Linked DNA regions of Homo sapiens: regions 1 and 3 are each linked to region 2. The links come from fine-mapping of genetic effects on gene expression. A gene starts in region 2. Each other region holds a variant in brackets. All regions are shown on one strand. Distances are between the middles of the regions.

Region 1 (10,000 bases), 56 kb after region 2:
GTAAAATAGGCCGGGCACGGTGGCTCCCGCCTGTAATCTCAGCACTTTGGGAGGCCGAGGCGGGTGGATCACGAGGTCAGGAGATCGAGACCATCCTGGCTAACATGGTGAAACCCGTCTCTACTAAAAATACAACAAATTAGCCGGGCATGGTGGCGGGCGCCTGTAGTCCCAGCTACTCGGGAGGCTGAGGCAGGAGAACGGTGTGAAACCCAGAGGCGGAGCTTGCAGTGAGCCGAGATCGCGCCACTCCATTCCAGCCTGGGCGACAGAGTGAGACTCCGTCTCAAAAAAAAAAAAAAAAAAAGAGTAAAATATTTTGATTTCCTTTATCTGTCATGTGACGTTATGCTAGAGTCAGGTTGGAAACTAAGCCAATTATATAGGGTTAAATAAAACCTATCTGATGACATTTTATGGTTTGTAGGGCAGACTCCCCAGGCCCTTTAGATAAGAACTTGAGCAAGAGAGAAAAAGATCAGTTTAGTCCTCACTAGTAAAGGAGTGATAGCGACAGGAGGCAGGCAGCCAAATGCCCAGCCAAATGGGGGCAGGTCCCCAGTGAAACCTCCACCTCGACGCTGAAAACAGCTTAAAGCCTGAAAGCCAAGCTGCAAGTCGAATCCTCAGACCGGATTGAGAGCCTGTCTTCCTGTCTGGCGCACTTTCCTCTGATTGGTCCCACCCTTCACCTATTTTACATATACCTACCCTTTTCTAATTGGCTTTCTACACTGTCATGCCCACCTTTCAGTGGTGCCTTTGCTTTAACCTTTTTTGCATTACTCACAAACCAATCAGCACGCCCTCCCCATTCTGAGTCCATAACATGGGGAACTTTCCTGCCTTCATGTAGGGGGACCACGCCATGTCCCCTCTCCACTGAAAGCTGCCCCGTCACCCAGTGAAATTCCCCGCCTTGCTCACTCTTCGATTGTCAGAGCCTCCTCATTCTTCTTGGCCGTGGACAAGCATTCGGGAACTCGGGGGAGTTGACGGGCTGTCTCCTGCAGCAGGTAGTGTGTCAAGCGAGGCCCTGGCGGGGCGTCGCTGGCCGGAGGTCCCTGGCTTGCAGAATGACTGAGAACAACATCCTATGTCAATAGGAATGTCTTCAAAATTGTTAGTTACATATAATTTAATACTTGTTGATTTGCTGTTACTTATGTTTTTGGTTTTGAGCCTCTGGAATCGGGGCTGGACAGGTGGCCATGGTGAGGTCTGGGGACAAGTTCTCAGTGCCTCGACCAGCAGCTCCCAAGCAGAATCCAGCCCCATGTGGTCCCCTTTCGCCAGTTTTGCCTCCTGGCTATTCTGGGAGAGGTTGGATCCTCCAGGCATTGCCTTCACAGCTCTGTCTTCTGTCCTGAGCTCTAACCTAGGATGTAACTTCGGGCCTCAGACAGCCTTGACAGCCTCCCTGGGTGCCACATGGCTACTTGAGACCCAGCAGGCCTGGGAAAGACTGTAGGGAGGGCACCTGTGTCATAGCTTCATGCAGGGAGCCGAAGGCCCGTGGGACGTGACCAACTCAGCATTCCGCTGGAGGCTCTATGATCAAACAGCAAACTGTTTACCATGAATGCAGGATGTGGGTGAACTCACACTGCCCTGCCACCAAAAGGTTTGCTGAGGGCCTCGCTCCCTGGCTCTGGGCTCCTTGAAGTTATCTATTGAGAAATACTCTATTGTCCAAAGGATGCAGCCTGTTCAAGGCCGACTGACAATTACCCGACAATCACCCCCCTTTTCTCACTATCTCTTTTGCCTAATAGATACGGAGGGCTGTGTAAAGCTCAGGGCCCTTGTCCACTAGAGGCAAGGTGCCCCCTGACGCCCTCTTCCAAATATACTCTTTTGTCTCTTGTCTTTATTCCCGAGTTCGCCCCCTTTGTTCAGTCCCCTTAGGTCCGTGCAGGTTACAAGTGGCGCCCCGATCAGCGATAGAATCGGGTGCTCAACACTTTCAAAACTGTTTTTTTTTTTCGGATGGAGTCTGACTCTGTTGCTCAGGCTGGAGTGCAGTGGTGCAATCTCGGCTCACTGCAAGCTCCACCTCCTGGGTTCAAGTGATTCTCCAGCCTCAGCCTCCCGAGTAGCTGGGACTACAGGGGCCCGCCACCATGCCCAGCTAATTTTTTGTATGTTTTGTAGAGACAGGGTTTCACCATGTTGGCTAAGCTGGTCTCGAACCCCTGACCTCAGTTGATCTGCCTGCCTTGGTCTCCCAAAGTGCTGGGATTACAGACGTGAGCCACTGTGCCCGGCCAAGACCCCATCTCTTAAAACATTGGGAAGAAAAAAATCTATAATATTATAAAAGCTGTATGGGCCAGGTGCGGTGGCTCATGCCTATAATCCCAGCACTTTGGGAGGCCGAGGCGGGCAGATCATAGGTCAGGAGTTCGAGGCCAGTCTGGCCAACAGGGTGAAACTCCATCTCTACTAAAAATACAAAAAATAGCCGGGCGTGGTGGTGCGTGCCTATAGTCCCAGCTACTCAGGAGGCTGAGGCAGAAGAATTGCTTGAACCCAGGAGGCAGAGGTTGCCGTGAGCTTGTAGCAGGACAAGATGCAGACAAAACTCTCAGACACCAAGTCAAAGAAGGAAGGAGTTTATTTGGCCGAGAGCATTGGCAAGACTCCTGTCTCAAGAGCCGAGCTCCCTGAGTGAGCAATTCCTGTCCCTTTTAAGAGCTCACAACTCTAAGGGGGTCCGCGTGAGAGGGTCGTGATCAATTGAGCAAGCAGGGGGTACGTGACTGGGGGCTGCATGCACTGGTAATCAGAACGGAACAGAACGGGACAGGGATTTTTACAATGTCTGGAATCTATAGGTAACACAACCGGTTAGGTCAGGGGTCAGTCTTTAACTACCAGGCCCAGGGTGCGGCGCCGGGCTGTCTACCTGTAGATTTCATTTCTGCCTTTTAGCTTTTACTTCTTCTTTCTTTGGAGGCAGAAATTGGGCATAAGAGGATATGAGGGGCAGTCTCCTCCCTTATTCCCCCTCTTTGAGACTCTCACTCATTTTATTAGTGGGAGTTCTCACCTTCTTCCTCACTAGCTATGTCTTCCTGCATGACAGAGCGATAGTGATTCATGAAGTACACTTGTGCTGAAGCATTCTTTTTTTTTTTTTTTTTTTTTTTTTTTTTGAGACGGAGTCTTGCTCTGTCGCCCAGGCTGGAGTGCAGGGGCGCGATCTCGGCTCACTGCAAGCTCCGCCTCCCGGGTTCACGCCATTCTCCTGCCTCAGCCTCCTGAGTACCTGGGACTACAGGCGCCCGCCACCATGCCCAGCTAATTTTTTTTTTTTGTATTTTTAGTAGAGACGGGGTTTCACCGCGTTAGCCAGGATGGTCTCGATCTCCTGACCTCATGATCCGCCTGCCTCAGCCTCCCAAAAAGCTGGGATTACAGGCGTGAGCCACCGCGCTCGGCTGTGCTGAAGCATTCTGGTGAACTAGAGTAGTGATGAAACCTTTTACCATTTGAAGGAGTACAGGTAGTAAACAACGGATCAGTAAGCAGGTTCTTATTACTACTGTAATTTTTATTATAAGAGTTTTAAATCCTCTTAGCGCTGGGAACCATTTTCAAACATGGCCTCAGGATCAAATCCGTGCCACGCTTGTACAGGCACATGTGCCAGTTTCGTCATGTCTTTAACTGTATCTTCAACTACTTGCCCCGATCATGTATGTGCAGGCAGCAATTGGTAAGGTTCAATTTCCCACAGACTTCTCCTTCAGCTGCTAGCAAGTAGTCGAGAGTCAATTTATTTTGATAGATAGCATTTCTCATCTGAGTTTCTTGCCGGGCCAGAATAGTCAAGGCTCTGCCGGTCCTATTAGTGATTATTTCTAAGACAGCTTGTAACCGTATGATTTGGTTGAGCATGTAGATGGGGGTCCGGTATCCCCACAAGCCATCTTGTGCCCAAGTAGCAGGCCTATAATATTCCATCATTCTCTCAGGGGGCCATTTATTATCTTTCTTATTTTTTTATAGCTATGCTTCTCTTTTCGCGGGAAACATAGGGAAGCCCAGGAGTTCACCTGTCTTTATAGGCAGTAGGAAGAAAGATGGTTTAATAGTGCCAATCACACAACTGCCTGCCCACTGGTCGGGTAATTTGGTGTAAGGCCTATGCCCACACATTCAGTATAATCCAGTGGGGGCTGTCCAGTCTCGGTGGGACTCCGGATGGGTCCACACGGTTTGCAACTTTGGGAATTTACTAAATGGATTTTTCTTAGTATGGTTTGAACTCCACTAGGTGGCTGTTTTTGTAGTACCATTATACAGTTTTTGCCTAAGGCAGCTGAGTCGTCCTACAGGAAGGGTGAAGTCCTTCCTTACTCTTTTTTTTTTTTTTTTTTTTTTGAGACGGAGTCTTGCTCTGTCACCCAGGCTGGAGTGCAGTGGCGTGATCTCAGCTCACTACAAGCTCTGCCTCCCGGGTTCACGCCATTCTCCTGCCTCAGCCTCCCGAGCAGCTGGGACTACAGGCGCCCGCCACCACGCCTGGCTAATTTTTTATATTTTTAGTAGAGACGGGGTTTCACCGTGTTAGCCAGGATGGTCTCCATCTCCTGACCTTGTGATCCGCCCGCCTCGGCCTCCCAAAGTGCTGGGATTACAGGCGTGAGCCACCGCGCCCGGCCCCTTACTCTTGCTATACAGTATTGTCTAGTGATTGAGGCTTTTAGGACCCGGAAGTTATCAGGGTGATTTTTCTGAGCCAGGAATTCGTCAGGAACTGGGTCTGTAGGTACTAATTCTTGGGCTTCCCGTGGCCATTGGTCTTTTATTATAGTTCCTCCACACACATAGCATGAAGTGACATTGAGAGACTGGGCTACATGGTCAGCTAATTGCAAACAAATTTCTTATTTTTCCTGGAATTTCTGGTGCTGGCACATTCAGTTCATCATAGAAGGTTTGAAATACTGGCTCAGGAGAGCGTTTATAAACTTCTCCTCAAACCACAATATTTACTTGAAGATCCAGTCCAGCCCCATGAATTTCTAGGGTTATGGCCGGGCACGGTAGCTCACGCCTGTAATCCCAGCACTTTGGGAGGCAGAGGCGGGCGGATCACGAGGTCAGGAGATCGAGACCATCCTGGCTAACACGGTGAAACCCCATCTCTACTAAAAATACAAAAAATTAGCCGGGTGTGGTGGCGGGCACCTGTAGTCCCAGCTACTCAGGAGGCTGAGGCAGGAGAATGGCGTGAACCCGGGAGGCAGAGCTCGCAGTGAGCCGAGATCGCTCCACTGCACTCCAGCCTGGGTGACAGACCGAGACTCCATCTCAAAAAAAAAAAAAAATTCTAGGGTTAC[A/G]CATTTCCTTTTTTTCCAGCGAGGATTAAGGGGGTTGGTTATTACTAGTTCTAAGGGGTTACACTGACCACTGGTATAGGAAGGGCCACTTTTCCTTTTCTGAAGGTGGACAGAATTTTTTTCATTTTTTATCCAAGTAGCCTAAATGACACAAGACCAGTAACTACATTCATTTCCACACAGTCCTAACTCATGATAAATGTACTTATTTTCTGCCATACAGCCTCTTTCCTAATGAAGAGAACCACATCCTATTCCTAACTTATTAGTATTAATGACAGCACAGGCATCACACTTCAAGGTGACTTGTTTGGGCACCTCTTTTTGTTTGTTTTTTTTGGCTAACACTTTACTCATATTGTTTATGAGCCCCCACCAGTCTTTAATTCTTAATCTTATTTGAAAAACTGTGGTCATGGGAGGCTCAGATGGGTCATAACACACATCAGGTTGGTCATTTCCTGGGCACATACCTTGTATAGAATAACATTATACAAACAAGTTCTTTTTAGAGTTCCAGTACACTTATAATAACCGTAAAATAATGGGACTGTAGCAACATTTTGTCCTCCCTCAGTGACTTGATGTATACACTAGGAACAGTCCTCAGTCTGAGGAGGGTGAGTTGAAGTCCTTACTGTACAAGTCCAAATTTTAAGGAAAACGAGTCCTGCGATGAGTTTCCTCATGCTTCGGCCGTGCATGGACCAGTCAGCTTCTGGGCGTGACTGGAGCAGGGCTTGTCGTCTTCCTCAGAGTCACTTTGCAGGGGTTGGCGAAGCTGCTGCTATCCACGTACTGCTCACAGTCTACTGATGTTCAAGGATGGTCTCGGAGGTTGCGCCTGCTAGAATAAACTGAGTCCAACACCTCTACACAGTTATGTTCAACTGGGCTCCCCGATACCGGGAGCAAGGTGCTGGGGTTTAGGGTGTTGCAAACTGCAGTGGTTATGTGGGGATTTTCACACAGCAAGCTTTGGTACTTGGTTAATCTAGCATTTGTTAGCCAATGATGTCCTTTGGGATTCATCAAAGTTACCACAGCATGGGGGGCCTTTATATTCAGGTTTTGTCCAAGAGTTAGTTTATCTGCTTCTTGTGCTAACAGGGCCGTTGCTGCCGGGGCCCTTAGACACGGGGGCCAGGCTTTGGAAACCCCCTATAGTTGTTTAGAGAGATAGGCCACTGCCCTTAGCCAGGGCCCCACAGTCTAGGTTAAAACTCCAAATGCCATTTTTTCTCTTTCTGACACATAGAGTGTAAAAGGTTTTGTCACGTCAGGTAGACTCAGGGCTGGGGCCAACAGGAGTTTTTCTTTTAACTCATGAAAAGCTTGTTGCTGTTGGTTGTAATAGATGTAGTTTATCTAATCTACACTTTTATTAACTGTCACCTACTAAAATATTGACGTAAATCCTATAGCTATTTGATTTCAAGCTTTAATTGATCTGGTGTTCCTTGAGGGGCCCCAACTGCATCCAAATAGACGTGAGAGTTGAAAGACCCATAAGGGGCTTCTCTCGCTTTATGACGTCTTATTTTTTCTCCCTCTGGTTGATGAAATGCCAGGGTGAAAGGGATAGCCAAACGGACTAAAGCACAAGTGCCATTCCAGTTATTCAGCAGAGTGCCCAGTAAAGGTCCACCACAATACCACCACACATCCGCACAGGGATGAACAAGGGCTGACTGATTGATAAGCTCTCGAAAATTCTTAAGCTCATCGCATCCCTTCAGGTCTCCAAGGAATGCTGTTTCCTCCCTGTCGTGAGAGACACGAAGTGAACTTAGTGTTGGGAGACAGAAGCTGGATGGCCCTTGCGGGCTGACCCACAGGGTGCTGGATTTCGGGATATAGCAGAGAGAGCTTGGCACGTCTTGTTACTGCAGGCTGTAGAATCCTGGAAAAGAGCTACTATGCAGCCACGCCTGGTCGACTGGCGACCACCTTAGTGGAGGGGGACAATCTGGGCCTCTGGCCTGCCATGTGCACAAGCGTAACAGTTGCTTTTGTTTAATGTGTAGATGGAATATTTGATCCATTTTAACCAGGCATTTGCACCTTGGTATCCTGTCCTAATTGTTAAAGTTTGTTTTAAGTCTTTAACTTCTATGATCCTCTAGTATTCTCCATTCCCCTCTTCTGCAGCCCTAGAAACCACCGTTCTACTTTGTTTCTATGAATCTGGCTACTGTGGATACCTCGTAGAAATGGAATCACACACAGTATTGGTCCTCTTGTGACTGATTATCTCACTCAGCACAATGTCCTCAAGGTTCATCCCTCTTGAAGCGTGTGTCAGAATTGACTTCTTCTTTAAGGCTAATATTCTGCTGTGTGTCCATACCACATTCGGTGTATCCATTTGTCCATTGACGGACTCTTGAGCCGCTGGGAATGGTGCTGCTGTGAACGTAGGGGTGCAAACGTCTGCGTGAGTGCCTGCTTTCACAGCTCTGGGAATATGCCCAGAAGTGGAATGGCCAGGTCACAAGGTCACTCCAGGCACCACACGCCGAGGACCCGCCGGTCACTCCAGGCACCACACGCCGAGGACCCGACGTCACTCCAGGCACCACACGCCGAGGACCCGCCATGCTGCTCTCCTTAGGAGGTGTACTATGTACTATTTTACATTCCAAACAGCAGCACACAGGGTTCTAGCTTCTCCACAGCCTTGCCAATACCTGTTATTTTTCTGTTTTAAGTTGTTTCTGTTTTGTGTTTGTTTTGTTATTTTAATTGTTTGCCATCCTAATGGGTGTGAGGTGGTATCTCATTGTGGCTTTGATTTGCAGTTCTCTAAGAATGAGTGGTGTGAACATCCTCTCATGTGCTTATTGGGCCATTCTTTTCTTTACTTTTTTTTTTTTTTTTTTGAGACGGAGTCTCACTTTGTCGCCCAGGCTGGAGTACAGTGGCGTGATCTCAGCTCACTACAACTTCCACCTCCTGGGTTCAAGCAATTCTCCTGCCTCAGCCTCCCGAGTAGCTGGGATTACAGGCACCCACCACCACGCCCCGCTAATTTCGTATTTTTAGTAGAGACAAGGGTTTATCCATGTTGGTCAGGCTGGTCTCGAACTCCCAACCTCAGGTGATCCGCCCACCTTGGCCTCCCAAAGTGCTAGGATTAGAGGTGTGAGCTACCACGCCCAGCCTATTGGGCCATTCTTGGGAGAGAGGTCTAATTAGTCCTTTGCCTATTTTTGAATCAGGTTGTTTTTGGGGAGTCGTTTTCTGGAGTGTTCCATGGTAAGTAGGTCTATGTAAACCTGTCTCCAAAGTCCGAGGAAGCTGAGAGGTCAAAGAAAAAGGCTAACAAACCCAGTTTCTTAGAAAGAAACACTTAACAGGGACTTAGAAAAAGAAGCCATGTCTGTCTTGGCAGCGGCAAGAGGAGATACTGGATCCCACCATTGCCCCCGCCCAGGGCTTGTGTACCACGGGGAGGGTTGGGAGGGAAGTGCAGGACAATGGGCGGCATCAGGGCCGTCTGACCCTGCGGCAGGGTTTATAGCAAGTGCCTGCCCTTACACAAGGAACAACAGATCACCTGGAAACGTCGGAGGCCTTCCCTGGACGGGTTAGTCGAAAGCCCACACAATAGTCACCATCCAGGCTGGAGCGGCTTTGGCCTCCACAAGGAGTTCCTTCGATATTTTGGATATGAGTCCCTCATCGGACACGTGATTTGCAGATATTCTCCCGTTCTGTGGGGAAGGGGCAGCTTTTCACTCTTTTAGGAGTGTCCTTTGATGAACAAAAGGCTTTAATTTTCACGAAGCCATTTGGCTGTTTGTTGTTGTTGCCTGTACCTTTGGTGTCCAAGGAATCATTGCCAAACCCAGTGTGTGTCAAAAGCTTCTGCTCCCAGTTTCTAACAAGAGTTTACTGTTTCAGGTCTTGCATCCAGATCTTTGATCCATTTTTACTTTTTATTTTACTTTATTTACTTATTTTTTTGAGACAGTCTTGCTCTGTTGCCCAGGCTGGAGTGCAGTGGCGTGATCTCGGCTCACTGCAACCTCTGCCTCCCGGGTTTAAGGGATTCTCCCACCTCGGTCTCCCAAGTAGCTGGGATTTCAGGTGTGCACCACCACACCTGGCTAATTTTTTTTTGTATTTTTAGTAGAGACAGGGTTTCACCATGTTGGCCAGGCTGGTCTCGAACTCCCGACCTCAGGTGATCCACTCTCCTCAGCCTCCCAAAGTGCTGGGATTACAGGTACAAGCGGTGCAAGCCACGGTGCCCAGCATGATCCATTTCTAGTTAATTTTTGTATGTGGTACTGACGAGGGTCCAACTTCATTCTCTTGCATGTATCACACTTTCCCAGCAACAGCCACTGTAACCTCTACCTCGTGGGCTGAAGCCATCCTCCCGCCTGAGCCCACCACGTAGCTGGGCCTGCAGGAGTGCATCACCACACCTGGCTAACTTTTCAAAATTTTTTGTAGAGACAGGTCTCAATATGGTGCCCAGGCTGATCTGAAATTCCTGACCTCAAGCAATCCTCCAACCTTGGCCTCCCCAAGTGCTGGGATTACAGGCATGAGCCATGGTGCACCCTGGCCCCACCAGGAGATTGTATATCCATGGGTACTGGTGACACTGGGCCTCAATAGAACAATTCCATATATAC
Region 2 (10,000 bases):
GAGTTTCCCTCGACCAGCTGTGGGACCGGGGGAGCCGGGATGGGGCGGGGGCGGGGGGCATTGGTGCCGCCCAGGGCAGGACCAGGCACGCCCGTTGCTGCGCACAGCAGGCACTCTGGCTGCTGCGCTGCCTCCTCCAGCTTCTCAGCCTCCCTCCCAGTCTCGCCGGCAGGGCCCGTGGCCTGTAAAGCCCCGTGCCGCCGTGTCAGCGCGTTAGTCAGCCTCTCAGCCCAGGCGAGCCACCGCGCCGTGGAGTCCCTATAAACTCCCTGGCGTGGCCTGGCCCCACCGAGTGGGGTCAGTGAGGCCCATAGGCAGAGCCAGAGTCCCGAGCTGCGGTGCTGCGGGCTCCAGCAAGGGGCAGGACCTGGAACAGGGGGCCAAGCCTGGCGTGGGAGCACACGGCCACTGTAGCCTCCAGGGACGCCCTCTGAGCTGGCCTGAGGCCGGCTGGTCCATGAGCCAGGGCCCCTGGGGAGCAGACACCTGGTGAAGGAGGCGCTGGATCCAGGGCCATGTCTGGGAAACGAAGTCGAGTTCGCAAACCCCGGGCCAGGAGGGCAGGCAGGGCCCAGCCGGCAGCTGGGCAGCAGGGCCCTGAGGTCGAGCCCCCGCCCCCCACCCCAGGGGGCCCTCAGGGTGAAGCGGGGGTGGCCCCTACAGGGCACGTGACCAGCATCGAGCCAGCACCTCAGGGACACCCCAGGGTGGCCAGGCCAGAGCAGCCACAGGCAGCCTCGAGACCGGTGCCGGCCACTGCTCCGGGGTCTGAGCTGGTGCTGGTCCTTGCTGGGCACATGGAAGGCTGTGGAGCAGGGGACCCCATGCCGGCCCTGGGCCCCGAACTGCTGAGGCTCCATGAGGTCCAGCTGTGCCTGGCCCAGGAGCAGCTGCTGCTGGAGGACCGGTGGCGGCAGGTCCAGCTGCAGATGCAGCTGTGGCGGGAGGAGCAGCTATGGCTGCAGCAGCTACAGGAGGAGCAGCTGTGGCTGCAGCAGCTACAGGAGGAGCAGGCCTGGGTACACGTGGAGGGGCTGCAGCTGGCCGTGGCCCTGGAGCAGCTCCGGAGTGAGGGCTTCGAAGCACTGCAGACCCAAGGCCAGGTAAGGCCTGGATGGGGTGGCGGGAGGGGTCCCGGACTGTTGTGTTGGTGCGGTGGCCACTGCAGCAACCTAGGGATGCCTGTGGAGGCCCAGGAAGCCAGGCTGGATGCAGGGTATCTGTGGGCCCATCTTCACATCTGCCAAGTGAAGCCGGTGCCCGCCACACAGGGCACTGCAAGACCAAGGGACAGCAAGCCTGCCCAGGCTGGCCCAATGCTTGGTGGAAATGGGCACTGAGGGCAGATACTTGTTCAGGGACAGAGGTGTCCCTGCAGCAGACCCAGGCATGCTGGGCCAGAGCCGTCCAGGGCAGTGTATGGGCTGCGGTGCAGGGCGAAGGCCTGGGTGTGCAGTCAGTAGGTAGCAGAACTGAAGAGCACAGCCCCCACCCCTGCAACCCAGTTTCCTGGCTGCCTTGCTGGTCCACCTGCCCTGCCCCCCGTTTATTGGAGTGCAGTGTACTCAGGGCTAGAGATTGCGGAAGCAGCATGCGGCACCTGTGCCCATTATCCTCATTCCAGGAGGGCGGCTGGCCTCAGACGCAGCTGGGGCTATTTTGGGGAACTAGGATCTAACCCCAGCCTGGCGTGGAGGAGCGGTCACCATCATCCCACCTGCTCCTGTGAATCTGGGAGCTCTCTGGCAACCAGGGGTGTTAGGCCAGGCCCACTCTAAGCAGAGGGGCAGTCTGGGGAGCAGGATGGGGTGCTCTCTTAGCAAGCACAGACCCCAGTGCAGGCCTGGGTGCTGAAGGACCCCAGATTTGCAACCTGGAATGTGTTCACAGCCAGCATAGAGAATAAATGGGAGCTGGAGCAAGGGAGTGACAACAGTGAAGGCGGGGCTGGGGTGGGGGAGGGTACTGGGGGAAGTCTCCTTCCTGACCCACAGGAAAACCCAGCCCAGGTGAGCTGTCACCATCCAACCTGGAAGTGACTATGGAGAAGGTGACTGGGAGCAAAGCCGCAGGCAGAGGGCAGCACAGGATGGCCCAGATGGAGCAGAGAGTCAGAGAACACATGCTTAGACTGAGAATCCCCAACTTGGACTCAAACCCTCCTGTTTCAAAACCCATTTTTGGCCATCTAGGCGCCTCCCACTGGCTCCTGCCCCCTTCCCACCTCCATGTGTTCCAAAGCTGGGCTTCTCTGAGTGCTACCCCTAGGCCCCCACCCCAACCCCAGGGGTATAAGATTCAGGCTTGGCCGGGCATGTGGCTCAAGCCTGTAATCCCAGCACTTTGAGAGGCCGAGGCGGGCGGATCACCTGAGGTCAGGAATTCAAGACCAGCCTGGTCAATGTGGCGAAACCCCGTCTCTACTAAAACAAAAATACAAAAATCAGCAGGGCGTGGTGGCGCACGTCCATAATCCCAGCTACTCGGGAGGCTGAAGCACAAGACTCACTTGGACCCAGGAGGCGGAGGTTGCAGTGAGGAGGGATTGCGCCATTGCACTCGACTGGGTGACAAGAGCGAGACTCCGTCTCAAAAAAAAAAAAAAAAATAGATTCAGGCTCAAGGTCTGAGATGAATGAATGGGCTCTGAACCCTCAGTCAATCACACCTAATCCCAACTCAGAGGTCCCCTAAAAGCCACTCTTGGAAGAAGGGCTCTCCTCAGAGGGGGTGTCTCTCGGTGGCTACATAGAAGGTCTCACAGGTCAGTGTCTGGGTGACAGTGCTCTGGAGGTCAGAGGGTGCACTTACCAGCAGCAGCTCTTGTCTTGGGCCCAGGGTGGAGCGTCTGCCACTTCCCAGCTGCAGCTTTGGGTCTCCCCTTCTTACTGTCCATTCTCCTGGGGGGTGGGTAGGGAAGGACCAGGGAGAGGGTGCTCAGAGTGGCAGAGGGCAGGGGCAGTGGCAGTGGGGAACAGGGCACACCATGGGCGCCTGAGTGGATGACAGCAGGAACATGGGCTCCCCTGAGGCTTCCCAGCTGGTGTCCTGTCTGCCTGCCCGCCCCGGGTGTGTGCCCAGAAGCTTGAGCCGGGATGCCTGGCAAGAGCACTTGGCCACCTCCCGTCCCCCTGGCCGTGGCTTGCCTGCCCCTCCGCCCCAGGCTCAGCCCATCCTGCCGGGCGCAGGATCTGGAGTCTAGCACTCTTCTCCCTGCCCCAAGCTGCTGGGTTGCCAGTGGGCCGGTCTTTGTTCTCACCGTAATCATGAGCATGGCCCTCTCTGCTGAAGCCTCCATGCCTCTCCACTGCCCTGGGAAGCCAGCCCACCCCTGAGCCTGCTCCCCAGCCCACCCAAGGCACTCACCCCTCCACACCCTCAGACCTTATGTGGTCCCGGCTCTGGCAGATGGTGGTGTCAGGCCCTGGAGCAACACCCCTCTCCCTAGTCCACACAGCTGACCCCCAAGTTCATTTCCCTGGGAGGCTCCTCCTGCCTGCCCCAGCCTGTCCGGGTCCTCCCCGGTGCCCCATGCCCCTCACCCGCTGCAGCACAGTTGCCTGGGCACTGGTCTGACCCCCCACCCATGTTTCCAGCATGCTGGTACCAGTGGGGTGGCACTGAGTGTTTGGGGAAAGAACAAATGAAACTGGGACTGACCCTGAAAACAGAAAATAGGATCACATGGCAAGAGGAACAAAGAGAAAGGCGACTGATGACCATCAGAAAGGGTTGAGGCAGGGCCAGTCCTTGGGGTGGGAGTGGCAGGGGCGAGGGGTGGTGGTTTGGACAGATGATCCAGTGTAGGGCAGGGCCTAAGAGGGGGAGGGGCCCTAAGTGAGGGCCTGAGGGGGACCTGGGGGACTGGAGCACCCAGGGGCAGCTCGGGGTGGTGTGTGGGGGTTGCTGTGTACATGGGGGGGCGTCTGGTATGAGGCTTGGTGTGCACACTGGGTCCCTTGTCCGTTGGGGCTTGGTTTTTGCAGAGTCCCTGTGTGTACACAGGGTTCCGTATGTGAGGGAGGTCCCCTGTGCTCTCAGAGTCAGTGTGAATATGGCATCCCCTGTTTGTGTGTGGGGTTGGTGTCTGAGAAATCTCATATGCAGGTGGGGTTCCCTAGGTGTGCGGATGTCAGCGTGTTCGTGGGTGACTGGCATGGGCAGGACTCGGTGTGCTTGTGGCTTCTGTCTTCCTGAGGAGTCTCCTGTGCTTGGGGGTTGGTGTACATGAGGCACAGGTCATTCGGGGTCCGCATGTGCATGGGGGGGTCACTGCGGCAGAGTCCCCTACAAGTGTGGGCATCGGTGTGAGGGGGTGAGGGAGAAAGATGGGGGACCCCAGGTACTTGTGGGCATCAGTGTGTGTGGTGGGGGTTGGGGTCTGGGGGTCCTCTGTGTGGGCGGGGTCCTCGTCTACGTGTGGGGCGCTGGTGCGGTGGGAGACCGGTGTGTGGTGAGGGGATCCCCTGTGCTCTCGGGGCTCCCAGACCCGGCCCCGCCCGGGGCTCGACGCCGCCCCACCGTCCTCACCTGTCGCACCTGCCTCCCCCAACTCGGCGAGGAGGCCAGAGCTCCGCCCCTGGCGTCGGGCTCGCTCGTTTCCTAGCGACTGAGCCGGAACTTCCGAGTCACCCCGACTTCCGGGGCGAGGGTCAGGGGTCAGGCTGGGAACTTTGAGCCTTGGGTCAACAGTTGGGCTCCCGGGGGTCGGGGTCTTTGAAGTGCGGGCCTCACGGTCTCCGGCGGCGCTGGGCCGGGGTCTCCGGGCGCGCGGCCGCAGGGCACGGGCGGGTCGGGGCGCGGGCCGGGGGCGCGGGCTGGGGCTGGCGGCGGGCGCGGGGCGCAGGAATGCGGGCGCGCCGCGGGTGGGGCTGCCCCGCCCCCAGGTGCTGCCCGGGCAGGCAGGAGGCAGGAGCGACGGGCGGGGCGGGGGCGGGCGCGTGAATCAGGCCGGGCGGGCCGCGGCAGGGAGTGGCTGCCGGACCGACCGGACCGCGAGGCCGCTGGGCGGCGGTCGGCTCCTGCTGCCCCTGTGCCGAGACCCCGCGCACCTGGCCAGGTAGGGCCCCCCTCCCCCGGCCCGAGCGGGGCGGGGCGAGGCGGGGGGCGGGCGCCCCTTGGCGCGGTCCCACTTGGGCTACCCTTGCGCCCACACCTGGGCCGGGGCCGCGCGACCCAGAGAGGGGCGGTGGGAGTGGAGCGCGGCCGCGTGCGCGGGGCCGGGGTGGCGGGGCTGCTCGGACAGGGGGCGCCGCTGTGCGGATATGGACGCGAGCGCCCCCGCACGACGCCGGCCCGAAAAGAGCCGAGGGGGAAGGGGCCCGGGATCCGGGTCGAGCCTGCCCGGCCGTCCCGACTCGCTCCCGCCCTCGCGGCCTAGCTGGAGTCTGGGTGCTGGGCACGGCCTGGACCCTTCCCTGGGGACATCCGCCCGGGCCGCCGTGGACTGGGGTGGCCAGGGTGCGGCCTGGATCCCCGCGTGGCGAGCAGGGCGAGTGATGGGAGTGCTGCCCCTCGCGCCCACGTTCCTGGGCTGGGGTGGGCGGATAGGGCACCCAGCGGCCGCAGCCGCGAGCTCGTAGGGTGCACTGACCCCGTTGGGGGCTGGGGTGCCCACTCCGCAAGTTATCACTGAGCGACTTCCGGTCTGTGAGCCCCGTCCTCCGCACCCCACCTTTCCGCCGCCTAGAGCCTCCGCGCCCTCCTGCGCCCATCGGAACTTGGCACAGGTTCACCCCACTTTGTGTAGGAACTCCAGATCCTTCCATGGGGTCCTCCTTCCAGATACTCAGGAACCCCACTTCCTGCCAGGGTGGAGAGGATGGGGTCCTTGAAGGCCAGCTGAGGGCCCTGACTTCGAGTCAGAGGTCAGGGGTCAGCAAGCAGAAGAGTGGATTCGTGCTGAGTCATTGCCCATGGGTGGGTTCCGCGCCCTCCCTCCCTTGGGCAGACGTTTGGTAGGCAAATGTGTGGGCATGCAGGCCACTGGGGTGCTCCATCTTGGGCTCGGGAGTGGCTGCAGCCCCGTCCATAGCCCAGGAGACACGTACCCATGAAAGGAGACGACGTGAGGAATGAAGCAGTTGGAGGTCTGGGCATCACCCTGTGAGGACGAGGCATGTCTGCTGGGAGGGCTCCTGGCCACGGGGGCTTCCACTGTCTGGATGGTCCCTGCCCCCATTACACACAGCCTGGAGCCTGGACACTGAAATCCAAAGGGACAGTGGGGGTCCTTTCTAGAGTGTCCCCCCAGTGTCGGGAAGTACCCTCAAACAACATCAGCAGGGTTGTTCCCCCTGCCCTGTATGGTCAGACACCGCCCCTACAGACAGGCTGGCAATGGTGAGTGGGCTCCTCGGCCCAGCCAGACAGGCCTACACCTCACCCCCATGTGGTTGGCCTCGATCTGCCCCTGGCACAACCAGAGCGGTGTGCCCTAACCAGCCCCATATGTCAACCATGAGGACGGTGCCCCAACAAAGAAATGTTGGGACAGCTTCTCCCAAGCCGGTTGGCATCTAGGGCTGTTGAGTGGCACCAGGTATTTCCCATGTCTCAACTCCATGTCACCCCCAGGGGCACCAGGCAGGACGGCTGCCTCCTGACCCCAACATTCTCAGCCAAGTGGCTCCGGCTAGCACCCATGTAGTCCAGCTGGCCGGCATCCATCCTGTCAGCGCCCAGGGGCACGCTCCTCTGGGCACCTTCCTAGCCAGGGCCAACATTCAGGAACCTGTGTGCTAGGCGGGGACAGGTGTCCTGCCTCCCTCCCCAACCCGAGGAGCAGTGGGATGGACTGAGCAGTCCCTAGGGCTCTCCTTCCAGGGAGAGGTACCCAGGTAGCTCAGTGACCCTGTGTGCGTGGGCCCTGGGCGCTCCCCATCTGACACCTTTCTGGAGAGGCCAGGCCCCCGCAGGGACCCTTTGGAGAACAGAGTGGGCTGTGGGGCAGCCAAGCATGGATGGTGGTGGCGAGCCCAGGACCTGGAAAGGTCCCTGCTGCCCTGGATGGGGGCTGGTGGGGACAGGACTCTGAGCAAGTGGAGAGCCAGATTTGGGCGATGTGGAGTGCAGGCCCTGCAGGGCCCTGTGGGCACCAAGGGGCTGTGGCCCAGGGAGGTTTTATCTGAGAGGGACAGTGACAAGAAAGAGGTCAAAGGTAGGCCAAGGGAAGGAGGGGGTGCTGGGAGACAGGGACGGAGTCTAGGGATCAGTGTTCCAGGACTGGGCGGTCATAGAATGGGCTGTGGGAGCCCAATTGTGAAACCCTGAGGATGGGGAGGAGGTGTGGCCCGGGACTATGTGTGGGGCTTAAGGTTGCCATTCCAGGAGGAGGGTAGTCACAGCCCTGTTTGCTGCGCTCACCTTGGGCTAGGCGTGGTGTCATGTGGACCCTCAGCTGTGTTGTGCAGTAGAGGTAGGCCAGAGAGGTGCAGTGACCTACCCACAGTCTCCCAGGCAGTCAGAGACGGACACATGGGCAGCATGGGCGGCACCAGCTTGTCCAGTAGGCACAGTGCCAGGGGTCCGTGAATGTCTTAAAATAAGAAAAAAGTGAATATTATAATGATGAATGCAGCCTGGATTGTTTGTCTTTAAGCCAACAGTCATGAAATATTTGGGGGGGGGGGTTCGTTTTATTTTTATTTTTTGTAGTGATGTGGTCTCACTCTGTCACCCAGGCAGGAGTGCAGTGTCACAATCATAATTCACAGCAGCCTCCAACTCCTGGGCTCAAACAATCCTTCTGTCTCAGCTTCCCAAGTGCCTGGGACTATGTGTGCACGCCACCATGCCTGCCTAATGTTTAAAATTTTTTGTAGAGATGGGGTCTTGCTGTGTTGCCCAGGCTGGTTTCAAACTCCTGGCTTCAAGCAGTCCTCCTGCCTCAGCCTCCCAGAGAAAGGAGAGACAGGGCTGGGATACCTGTGCCCCAGCCCTCTGCCAGTGTCCCCTCAGCTAGGGGCATCCTAGGGTCTGGGTTGCTCTCTGTGAGCCTGGTTCGGCTGGTGCCCTGGAAGGCCTCCTGGGCATGGGCTAAACTCCAGCCTACCCAAGTCACTGACGGCCCTTTCCACAGTGTGTCCATGCTCGAGGGTAGGAGTGGTCCCAGTGCCCCCACCCCTAGTCATGTGTCTCCCTGCCCCTCCAGGCCCCTGGCCCCAACATGGCCCGTCGCTCTCAGAGCTCCTCGCAGGGGGACAACCCACTGGCACCCGGGTACCTGCCGCCTCACTACAAAGAGTACTACCGCCTGGCGGTGGATGCACTGGCCGAGGGTGGCTCGGAGGCCTACAGCCGCTTCCTCGCTACCGAGGGGGCACCAGACTTCCTGTGCCCTGAAGAGCTGGAACATGTGAGCCGACACCTTCGGCCTCCGCAGTATGTTACCCGAGAGCCACCTGAAGGCAGCCTTCTCGACGTGGACATGGATGGCTCCTCGGGTACATACTGGCCAGTGAACTCAGACCAGGCCGTGCCTGAGCTTGATTTGGGCTGGCCTCTGACCTTCGGCTTCCAGGGCACCGAGGTGACCACCTTGGTGCAGCCACCGCCCCCCGACAGCCCCAGTATCAAGGATGAGGCCCGCAGGATGATCCGTTCCGCCCAGCAGGTGCGCCATCTTGGGCTTGAGGGTAGTGGGGGAGGGGCCTGGGCTAGAGGCACGGGGGTGGAGGAGATGCATGAGCATGATCAGCTTGAGGGGTGAGCCTGAGCTCCAGCTGGAGTGGGGGTCCCTGGCAAAGATCTTCAGGGCTGCCAGGTCTCGGTCATCAGGGGCTGCAGGCTCTGCACAGGTCTGCTTGCCTGTGGTCATGGCCAGTGCCCAGAAACTCGGGGGCTCTGGGGATGGGTGGGCACCCCACCAGCCTGGGTTCATTGTTCAGATAATTACCTCTCATCCTGCCCGGTGGCCCTTGGCCAGCTGAGGGCTTCTAACCATCACCAAACAGCTAGCAGACGGCGGAAGGTGCTGTTAAACCATAGCGACTGAGGCATGAGGTCCAGACGCTAAAGGCTTGTGACTTTCTCCCCTGCCCAGGGCAACAACCCCGTCCCAGGGCAGAACTGGAGCCTGGCACTTGGCCCTGACAGCTGCCCTGGAATGGGGGCAGCTCAGCCGTCTGTAGGGTGGAGGGGATTGAGGGGCCCTTGCCGTGCCCCAACCTGGCCCACCCTCATCCAGGGTTCTCTGCCCTGCACCTGCCTCGGTTTCCCCCTTATGGCCAGCCGTTCCACACCTCTTCTGTTTGGTCCCTTCTTCCTGCCCATCTTCCCAGATGTGGCGCCAACTCCCTAGGATGGACTAGCTTGTTTCACAGTGGTCGTGGGTGATCCAGACACCTCCCGGGTGTGGAGGGGAGGCTGGACAATGGTGTGGGGACAGCAGGGGCCTCTCCTCTCCGTCCTGACCCGCCCCTGCAGGTGGTGGCCGTGGTGATGGACATGTTCACTGATGTGGACCTGCTCAGCGAAGTGCTGGAGGCCGCGGCCCGTCGGGTCCCAGTCTACATCCTGCTGGATGAGATGAACGCGCAGCACTTCCTGGACATGGCCGACAAGTGCCGTGTCAACCTGCAGCACGTGGATGTGAGTTCCCGGGAGTGGGAGATTGGGGAGGACCCGTGGGAGAGATCTGACTCCCCTCCCTCCCCAGTTCCTGCGCGTACGGACTGTGGCGGGCCCCACCTACTACTGCCGCACTGGGAAGTCCTTCAAGGGCCACGTCAAGGAGAAGTTCCTGCTGGTGGACTGTGCCGTGGTGATGAGTGGGAGCTACAGGTGCGCCCGCGGGGCTCCCTCACCCCCTTCTCTGGGGCCTCCTCCTGTAACCCCAGCACCCCCTTTCCACACCAGGGCCCTCCTCGCCAGGAGCCCTTGTCCTGTAGACCCCTGCACAGCCTAGCCGGGCCCAGGTCCTTGCAGACCTCACATCCCTGCGTCCTCCGCGCCCCACCCGCTGCCCACGGGGCTGCAGTGCCCTCGCTCCAGCTCGGTT
Region 3 (10,000 bases), 38 kb before region 2:
TATATTCTGTCTTGGATTTGTTCTTGTTTGAAGTGAGAGGATAAATCAGACGTTTTTGCTCAATTTTTTTCTTTTTTCTTTTTCTTTTTTTTTTTTTTTTTTGAGACGGAGTCTCGCTCTGTCGCCCAGGCCGGACTGCGGACTGCAGTGGCGCCATCTCAGCTCACTGCAAGCTCTGCCTCTTGGGTTCACGCCATTCTCCTGCCTCAGCCTCCCGAGTAGCTGGGACTACAGGCGCCCGCCACCACGCCCGGCTAATTTGTTGTATTTTTAGTGGAGACGGGGTTTCACCGTGTTAGCCAGGATGGGCTTGATCTCCTGACCCCGTAATCTGCCCGCCTCGGCCTCCCAAAGTGCTGGGATTACAGGCGTGAGCCGCCGCGCCCGGCCGCTGGGATTACAGGCGTGAGCCACCGCGCCCGGCCCTCCTCAATTTTTTTCAACCTTCTCTTTCTCTTTGTTTCATTTTGGAGAGTTTCTATTGCTATATCTTCAGATTAACTAATTTTCTTCAGTGTCTAATCTGCATCTTCCATTAATCCCATCCAGTGTATCAATGTACTTTTCATCTCAGACATTGCAGTTTTCATCTCTAGTTTAGGAATGGTGTGTGTGTGTGTGTGTGTGTGTGTGTGTGTGTGTAATACAGCTATAGTTTTTTTGTTTTTGAGGCGGAATCTCACTCTGTTGCCCAGGCTGAAGCCCAGTGGCGCGATCTCAGCTCACTGCAACTTCTGCCTCCTGAGTTCAAGCACTTCTCCTCTCTCAGCCTCCTAAGTAGCTGGGATTAGAGGTGCCCACCACCACGCCCAGCAGCTAATTTTTGTATTTTTAGTAGAGATGGGGTTTCACCATGTTGGCCAGGCTGGTCTCAAACTCCTGACCTTGTGATCTGCCCGCCTCGGCCTCCCACAGTGCTGGGATGACAGGTGTGAGCCACCCCGCCCGGCCTCAGCTATAATAACTTTTAATGTTCTTGTCTACTAATTCCATCTCCTGTGTCATCCCTGAGTCTGTTTTCATTGATTTTTCTCTTCACTCTGGGTCATTTTTCGTGTGTGTGTGTGTGTGTGTCTGTGTGTGTGTGTGTGTGTAGCATGCCTGGCAATTTAACTAAATTTTTATTTTGAATTTTTATTTTGATTTACATGAAGTTACAAAAATAGTAGAGTTCCCATATACCCTTAACAAGCTCCCCCAATGATGACTTCTTACATAATTACGGTACAACATACAAACTAGGATACTGACATAGTACAATCTACAGGGCTCACAGTGGATTTCAACTATTTCACATCTACTCGTGTGTGTGTGTGTATCATTACAATTTTCTCACATGTGCAGTTTTGCGTTACGACCATCGTAATCAAGATACAAGACTGTCTCATCACCTCAAGGGTCTCTTGTGCTACTCCTGCCCAGTCGGCCCCATCTCTCCCCGCTTTTCCTGCCCCCACTCCCATCCGTAACCCCTGCAGCCCTCCGATCTGTCCTCCGTCTCCACAGTGTTGTCATGTGAGTGTGTGTGACCTTCTCCCCCACTCTGTGAAGCTCCCTTCCGGTTTCTCCACGTTGCTAGTTGTTGCATGGATCATGTGTGCACACCGTTTTATTGCCAAGCGTGTTTCGTGGCAGGAATGCACCAAGCTAGTGGAGCCACTCGCCTGCTGGAGGACATCTGAGTCGTTTCCACTTTTTGGCTATTGTAAATAAAGCTGCTGTGAACATCTGTGTACACATTTTTGTGTGGACCTAGTTTTCCTTTTACTGGAGCAAATGTCTAGGAGTCTGATGCTGTGTTACATGGTAAATGTGTTCACTTTTTAAGAAACCGCCTGCCTATTTGCAAGAGCGGCTGTACTGGTGCTGCGTCCCCCCAGCAAGGTGTGGCAGGGCCAGCTTCCCCACATCCCTGCCCTCGTTCGGCTCCAGCTCTAGTTTGACCTGGGCTGTCCTGGGAGGTGTGAGGTGGTGTGCAACACCTCCTCGGGTGTTCATCTGCCATCATTAGATCCTCTTTGGTGAAATTTCTCTTCATGTCTTTGCTCATTTTATACCTAGATTGTATGTTTCATTGTTGTTTGCGATGTGAGTTTTTTCTATGTTCTAGGTACACGTGCCTTGCCAGATGCGTGGTTCACAAACGTTTGCTCCTGCCTGTGGCTTCTTTTCTTCTTGACAGGTCTTTTACAAAGCAAACATTTTACATTCTGATGAAGTTCTGTTTATCAATGTGGTTTTTTTTTTTTTTTGGATTGTGCTTTTTGTGTCATGTCCAAGAATCCCTCCAAGTCCTAGGCCCCAAAGATTTTTCTCCTATGTGTTCTAAAAGTTTTGTAATTTTACCCTTTACATTTAAATCTATAATCCACTTTGAGTTCATTTTTTATAGGTGTGTGCTTCAGGTCCACACTAACCCCTTTGCCTGTGGATGGCCAATGCTCCAGCACCATGGAGTGAACACACAGTCCCCTGGCACCCAAGGGCTCCCCCAGCACCCCCAGCTGCTGCCCTTCTCAGCTCTCCGGGCCACCATGCCCCAGGCAGCAGGTCTGCTGGACACCCCAGCACCCCTGACTCCCACTTGCACCTCTGGACGCCTCACCGTATCCTCAGCCCCTCCCTAAGCCCACCGCCTCGGCCCTGCCCCTCCCCTCCAGCCCAGGAAGAAGGACCCTTTGCAGACAAGGAGAAAGAAGAGAGGGGCAGGACAGGCTCCCAGGCAGCACCTACAGGAGGAGAGTCTGGGGGTGGGTCCCTAGCTGGGCAAAGACTCTGGCAGCAGTCCAGTGGATGCATCTCCCAGGTGTCTGCCGTGGGCCAGAGGCAGAACCCAGACTCCAGGCAGCACCTCCAGATTTGTGTGGGATGTGGGGTGAGGTTAGGGGTGGGGTGGGGGAACATAATGACTGAGATGGGAGAGGGACTGGGGTTCAAATTAAGTTGATTTAAATGAAACTAAGGTAGGCGAGGTTCGTGGTCTGGTTTTCCAGCCACTGCTCCAACAGGCGGAGTCAGCCTCACCCCACCCCACTCCTGGGCCTGGGACAAGTCCAGGCATTGTGTCTCCAGCCTGGCCCAGGGCAGACTCTGTTTTTTTTGTGTTTTTTTTGTTTTTTTTTTTTTTTTGAGTCTCACTCTGTTGCCCAGGCTGGAGTGCAGTGGCGCCATCTTGGCTCGCTGCAACCTCTGCCTCCCAGGTTCAAACGATTCTCCTGCCTCAGCCTCCCAAGTAGCTGGGACTACAGGCGTGCGCCACGACGCCCAGCTAATTTTTGTATCTTCAGTAGAGATGGTGTTTCACCATGTTGGCCAGGATGGTCTCAAACTCCTGAGCTCAAGTGATCCACCCGCCTCAGTCTCCCAAAAGTGCTGAGATTACAGGTGTGAGCCATCACGCCCGGCCAGACAGCCAGACTGTCCTTTCTAACATAGCTCAAAGGCTCTAGAAAGGAGCTCTGTGGCTGGGCTGTGTGGCTCAAGTTCTCTGGAAAACCGACGTACTGACAGTGAGGGGACCGATGGGTGGGCCCCGTGCTGCCCCCAGCGCCGTGAGCTCTGCCAACCCTGGAATCGCCAGCCTCAGTTTCTCCATCAGTAACACCACTTCCTCAGGCAAAGCACGGAAGGAAATGACACAAAACCCGACACCAAAGGCATTCACAAAATGGGAGTCGCTGCCACTTCCACTGCAGACTGACGAGGTTTTAAAGTCAGGACTTCCAGGAAGGGAATGGCGCACGGCGGGGCTAGGAAACCGCTCTAGCAGGCCACTCAGGCTTCTGACAGCTTTCAGAGACAGCCGGTCGGGTGAGCCTTCCCTGCCTGGGTGTGCACCTGCCAGACTCACACCTCCCGGTACCCACACCTCCCGGGGCTCACACCTCCCGAGGCCCACACCTCCCGGGGCTCACACCTCCCGGGGCCCACACCTCTGGGGTCCACACCCGCTCAGGGGTGCTCCCGTCCTCTGCGTACACCCGGGGGTCTGCTCCGAGCTTCAGGAGCACCTCCACAGCTGCCAGGTGGCCCCCAAAGGCTGCACGGTACAGCGGCGTCGGACCGAAAGCGCCCTGCAAGACGGGCCCCCCGAGCAAGATCCAGGCCTTGCCCCTGGGGGAAGGAGGCCCCTGAGGGCCCTGGACCGCGCCCCTCAGCGCGGCGGCCCGCGGCCCACGGCGCCCACCTTGCTGTTGGGGCTGGCGCCGAGCTCGGCCCGCAGCTGGATGGCCAGGGGCTGCCCGCCTGCGGCCGCCTCCGACAGCGGCGTGTTCCCGTAGCTGTCCTCGCACTCCGCCAGAGCCACGCGTCGCTGCAGCCGCCGCGCCTCGCCTGCCTCGTCGTGGCCCACGCCCTCGCGCGTCAGCAGCTGCTCCACCTGCGCAGCTCGCCGCGGTCACCGCTCCCCGCTCCTCCCACTCCCACCCCACCCCCCGCCCTCGTCCTCCTCCCGCCCCCGCTGACCTCCTTCAGCACCGCCCGGATCTCGCCCACGTCCCCGTCGAAGGCGGCGTCCAGCAGGCGGCGGCGACGCTGCAGCTCCTCCCGCCGCTCCCGCTGCGCCGCCTCCTCCTGCTCGCGCAGCCGCCGCGCGGCCTCCTGCTCCCGGCGCACCGGAGCCAGGTAGGCCTGGGAGGCGCCCGCCGAAGTCACCGCCCACTCCGCGCCACCGCCCCGAGCCCCGAGGCCACGGTCCACGCCTCTGAGGTCGGAGCCCGATCTGAGCCTCACCCCCACCACGCACCCTGCTTCGCCATTTCCTCCCCCTGCCTCCTGCCTGGCCCCCGGCTGTTGCGGCTGCCCGTCCTCACCTCCTTCTGCGGCGTCTCCATCTGCTCCAGGTACTCCCGGCGCTCCTCCCGGCGGCGGGCGAGCTCCCTCCTGGCCCGGAGCTGCCGGAAGGCGCCCTGGATCGCTCTGGCCGCTCGGTCCTCGGCCGGCCCTGGGGTGGGGAGAGGCTCACGGGGGCGCGTTCTCGCCTCCAGCCACGCCTGCTGCGCCCCTGGGAGTGGAGCCGGCCCCGCCCCCGCCCCCGCCCCGACAGAAGGACCCAAACGGCTCTCAAAGCCCCCAGCGCGGCCGAGCCGGGGTTCCCGCCCGCAGAGGCCGCACGAGGAGGCTGCGCGAGAGCCCGGGACGCGGAGAGGACCCAGGTCTGCGGGAACCTCCCCCGCCCCACGCCGCCGGGGATCCTGCGAGCCCCGCCGAGCCCGCAGCTCGGGAGCCCCGAGGAACGGTGAGGAAGGGGTGCTGTCCCCCGCGGGACACCCTTCCCTGAAAGCCGAAGGCCCCTCCTGCATCCAGGCCCCAGCGAGCGAAGGCTGGACTGAGCGGGGGGGCCCCAGGCCTGGGAGGGCTCATCACAGCCCCGCTGGACTCAGAAGAGGGCGCGGAGCCCAGGGCCCCAGAGGGAGCTCTGTCCTCTCCGGCTCGGCCTCGCCCTCGCCCCACCGCGGCTGCAACGGAGCGCTGAGCCCGAGCCTGGAGCCGCCTCGCAGTGAGGAGGGGGCGGAGGAGAGGGCGTCGGGCTCAGCGCTGCCCTGACTGGCCTGGGGAAGTCCGGGCACCACTCAGCCTCCCCGGCCTGAGCCCCTTGCTCTAACGTGGAACGATACCTGCAGCTTTCTAAGAGTCCAGCAATGGGGCGCTTGTGGCGCTTCCGCCACAGTGAACGCTCAGCGTGCGCCCCGTGGGTGTGACTTGTGCCAGGGCACGGGTGGCCAGGCGAGGCTGTCGGGCCACGCGGGTACCCAGCAGGGAGCCACGGGAGCGCAGGCCAGAAGCAAGCAGGCAGCGCAGCTGGGTCTCCACAGGTGCGCCCGCTGGGGAGCCAAGTACTATGATTCCCACAACCAAGCTCCCAGGGAGCATGGGCAGAATGGCGGGATGAGGCGAGACTGGGAGACGCGGAAGACCCTGCAGGCCCAGGGCACGGACCGGAGCAGCCAGCGGGGGCAGGGTGGAGAGCTGAGCCCATGTGGGAAAATCACAGCGAAGGAGAATAAAGGGAGAGGCGCCGTCAGGAGGGCGGGAC[C/A]CCGAGTGGCAGTGGACAGAGATAATACAGTCATAAGAATAACGTGCGTCTAGGATGCAGAGACTGACAATGCAAGCAAAGAGCAAACACTCAAGATAAAACCCAGGAAATCCTGAAATGAATCTTAAGACAAAAGGGGGAAAAATCCCAGAAAACAAAGGGCATGAACAACAGGCATCAGACACAATTCGCTGAAGTTAAGCCTCAAAACAAAATGTTTTTCAAGCACCCGAGGAGAAAGAGCAAAGCACCTATGACAGGAAAGTCCGGCTCTCCTGAGGCTTTTTTCTTTTTGAGACAGGGTCTCACTCTGTCACCCAGGATGCAGCACAGTGGCACAATCTCTGCTCACTGCTGCTTCCACTTCCCCGGTTCCGGCAATCCTCCCACCTCAGCCTCCGAGTAGCTGGGACCACAGGCACACGCCTGTGCACCACGGCCACCTCCGAAGGCTTTTTACAGAAACACTAAATGTTAGAAGAAAATGAAGCAGTGTCCACAAAATTCTGCAGGGAAAACAGTAGGCCAGGAAGAGTATTTGGTTCTGCAGCACAGATGGCAGGGCAGGAGGTGCAGCCTTCCCAGTGACAGCAAGAGAGAAGACAGACGAAATCAAAGTGTTTTTTAAACAAGTGTCTGACGGCATTCAAAGCTACTGAGGAAATGAAGAACGAGGTCTCCAAAACAGTGCAGCAGGGTGGTCCCAACACCAGGCAGGTGGGCCTGGCCTGGCCCAGAGCAAAGGGTCAGCTGCTCAGCAGAGGACGGGCCAAGGGACAGACCTGCATTTAGAGCACTGGGTATGGCTTGGGTTTAGGGTTGCCAGATTTAGCTAATAAACAGGATGCAATTTGGGGGACATACACTAAGTAAATTATTCCTGTTTATCTGAAATTCAAATTTAGGCCAAGCGCAGTGGCCTTGTAATCCCAGCACATTGGGAGGCTGAGATGGGAGGATTGCTTGAGCCCAGGAGTTTGAGGCCAGCCTGGACAACGTGGTGAGACCCTGTCTCTCTTTAAAAAAATATATATAGGGCCAAGTGCAATGGCTCACATCTGTAATCCCAACACTTTGGGAGGCTAAGGTGGGAGGACCACTTGAGCCCAGAAGTTCAAGACCAGCCTGGGCCACGTAGGGAGACCCCTGTCTCTACAAATAACTAAAAATTAGCTGGGTGCAGTGGCGTGCATCTGTAGTCCCGGTTACTCAGGAGGCTGAGATGGGAAGATGGCTTGAGCCCAGGTCAATGCTGCAGTGAGCCATGATCATGCCACTGCACTCCAGCCTGGACAACAGAGCGAGACCCTGTCTCAGTAAAATATATATATTTTTATATTATACATATAGAATATGTATATATGAGAAATTCAAATTTAAATGGATGTCCCGGATTTTGGGAGCCCTGTTTCATCTGGTAGCCCTATTTGGGTCAGAATCACAACCTTCACGAAATAAAATAACCCTGATGGTAACAGGGGCCCAGCTCCAAAGAGTGACAGCAAACAGTCAAAGTCATCTTCATTTGCAGATGATGCACATAAAAATCCAGAAGAACTCATCACAAATGATTATCATCAATAAGCAATCTTGGGAAGGTTCTGAATATAACCTCATACTCACAAAGTGTATTTCTGTACACAAGCAGCAACAGAAAAATTTAATATATTTAGCATCAAAAAACTATCATATACTTGGATTAAGCCCACAAAATAAACGTCAGTGAGTCCACAGTGATACAAATAAAGGATTAAAAACACACTAGAGGGAGTGGAGGGAAAGTAGAATCCCATCAATGGGTGTAGGAGGGGGCAGGGAAGGAGCAGATTCCCATCGGGCACACAAGAAGTGCAGCGGCTGCAGCTGACAGCCACCGACGTATGTCCGCCGGCGCACGTTTCAGTGGGCAGGGGTTTGAAGAGAAGCAGAATTTCTCTTGTCTCAATATATCTCTTCCAAGATAAGTATCAACCACGAAAGGAAAACATAGTACATTTACAAAGGAGAAACCTGGCGGAAACCCCCCCACTAAGTGATCGAGGGCAACGTCACAAGCAGTGAGACATTCGCGGAAACCCTCCTACTAAGTGATCGAGGGCAACGTCACAAGCGGTGAGACGTTCCCGCACCGTAAGCCCCATGACATGATGTACGTCAAAAACACAACATCATTTCTGCTTTATTTTATTTTTAATTTTTAGAAACAGAGCCTCAGCCGGACACAGTGGCTCACACCTGTAACCCCAGCACTTTGGGAGTCCGAGGCAGGTGGGTCACCTGATGTCAGGAGTTTGAGACCAACCTGGCCGACATGGTGAAACCCCGTCTCTACTAAAAGTACAAAAATTAGCTGGGTGTGGTGGCGGCGCCTGTAATCCAGCTACAGGGGAGGCTGAGGCAGGAAGAATCACTTGAACCCGGGAGGAGGAGCTTGCAGTGAGCCAAGATTGAGCCACTGCACTCCAGCCTGGGCGACAGAGCGAGACTCTGTCTCACAAAAAAAAAAAAAAAAAAAAAAGGTCTCGCTCCATCGTCCAGGCTGGAGTGCAGTGGCTCCATCTTGGCTCACTGCAAGCTCCGCCTCCCGGGTTCACGCCATTCTCCTGCCTCAGCCTCCTGAGTAGCCAAGACCACAGGTATACACCACCACACTCAGATTCATTCTTCAAAAGTGTCAAGGTCGTGAAAGAAAAGTCATGACTATAGGAACAGTTACAGACTACAGGTAACTATGCAGAAACAGCAAATAAATGCAATATGGCATCCTGGAAAAACTGGTGAAATTTGAGAAGGTCTTTAGTTAATGGTTTTATGCTAGTGTTGATTTCCTGGTTCTGTTCCTTGTACTGTCTCTATGTAAGATGTTAATCTTAGAGGAAGCTGGGTAAGTTACACATCTATGGAAAATCCCCATACTAATTCTGTTACTTTTCTGCAAGACCAAAACTACTTGAAAATAAAAAAGTAAACAATTGTCAAATACTAGGATTAAATCTGACAAAGATACACACAAGATCTCTATACACATGAGCAAACACACACACACACACTCATAAAACATTTCTGAAGAGCACTAAGACAAAACAGAAAACAAAAGGAGAGATATACCATATTCATAGATTGAGTGGACACTGCTGTAGAGGTGATACTCTCCGCACATTGAGCTATAGGTTCAACGAAATCCTAATGAAGTTCACCCAGCAGGGCTGTTTTGCTTTGTTTGTGTGAAAATTGACCACGTGATTCTGGAATGTATCTGCGAAAGAGCCAAGAATGGCAAATAATTCAAAGAAGAATTCGGTGAGAGGACTTGCTTTTCTTGATATTAGGACCTCATGTCGGTGAAGACAGTGCGATGTTCTCACACGGAGACCAGTGGCCGTGGGTTCAGAAACAGCCCCCGGGCATATGGGCACTTCCTGGCCAGGGGGCCTACAGAGCCGTGGGAAAGAATAGAGATTTCAGTCAGTGGTGGGGTCCAATCAGAAACCCGTATGAGGAGAGGGAGGACAGGTGTCTGCTACTTTACCCCATTCACAACAGGCAATTCCAGATGGACTGGTGATCGCACCGGAAGGCAAAACCATAAAGCTCGTTGAAGATCACATGGGAGAACAGCTTCAGGAACTTGGAGTTGGAAAGATTTATTTCAGAGACCACCACAAAAAATACCCAAAAGAAAACATGTTAAAATCAGTACGTTCTTTTTTTTTTCTTTTTTTCGTGAGACAGAATCTCGCACCGTCACGTAGGCTGGAGTGCAGTGACTCGATCCTGGCTCACTGCAACCTCCACCTCCCGGGTTCAAGCGATTCTCCTGCCTCAGCCTCCCAGGTAGCTGGGATTACAAGTGCCCACCACCACGCCTGGCTAATTTTTGTATTTTTAGTAGAGATGGGGTTTCACCATGTTGGCCAGGCTGGTCTTGAACTCCTGACCTCAGGTGATCCACCCACCTCAGCCTCC

Which allele goes with the higher level. Alleles are on the strand shown, and positions count from the first base shown. SD is a standard deviation of normalised expression in the study named. Not every link is listed here.
With allele A in place of C in region 3, the expression in cerebellar hemisphere of the gene that starts at base 4,611 in region 2 is higher (large effect, 0.77 SD a copy in GTEx).

What was found. PIP is the estimated chance that this variant, and not a neighbour inherited with it, causes the effect.
Region 1: its variant is fine-mapped to the expression of IQANK1 in nucleus accumbens (GTEx, PIP above 0.99).
Region 3: its variant is fine-mapped to the expression of IQANK1 in cerebellar hemisphere (GTEx, PIP above 0.99).

Annotation. Positions count from the first base shown.
Region 1 is chr8:143,672,946-143,682,945 of GRCh38, reverse strand. No RefSeq gene overlaps it. Among named protein-coding and RNA genes, the nearest start is that of ZNF707, 6.5 kb to the left of the region's middle. RefSeq lists a silencer at 667-892. The variant A/G (reference allele first, on the strand shown) is at 5,352.
Region 2 is chr8:143,728,750-143,738,749 of GRCh38, reverse strand. IQANK1 (IQ motif and ankyrin repeat containing 1) reads right to left here and starts at 4,611. Exons shown (of 14, transcript NM_001381874.1): 1 at 4,531-4,611; 2 at 2,812-2,900. The coding sequence starts at 2,896. FAM83H (family with sequence similarity 83 member H) reads left to right here and starts at 4,971. Exons shown (of 5, transcript NM_198488.5): 1 at 4,971-5,059; 2 at 8,153-8,614; 3 at 9,427-9,591; 4 at 9,659-9,783. The coding sequence starts at 8,168. MIR4664 (microRNA 4664) reads left to right here and starts at 5,597; the gene lies at 5,597-5,667. RefSeq lists enhancers at 120-985, 5,737-6,031 and a silencer at 5,908-6,118.
Region 3 is chr8:143,766,430-143,776,429 of GRCh38, reverse strand. It overlaps IQANK1 (IQ motif and ankyrin repeat containing 1), which reads right to left. Exons shown (of 14, transcript NM_001381874.1): 4 at 4,812-4,942; 5 at 4,465-4,629; 6 at 4,187-4,378; 7 at 3,948-4,073. Among named protein-coding and RNA genes, the nearest start is that of IQANK1, 37 kb to the right of the region's middle. RefSeq lists an enhancer at 5,646-6,319. The variant C/A (reference allele first, on the strand shown) is at 6,035.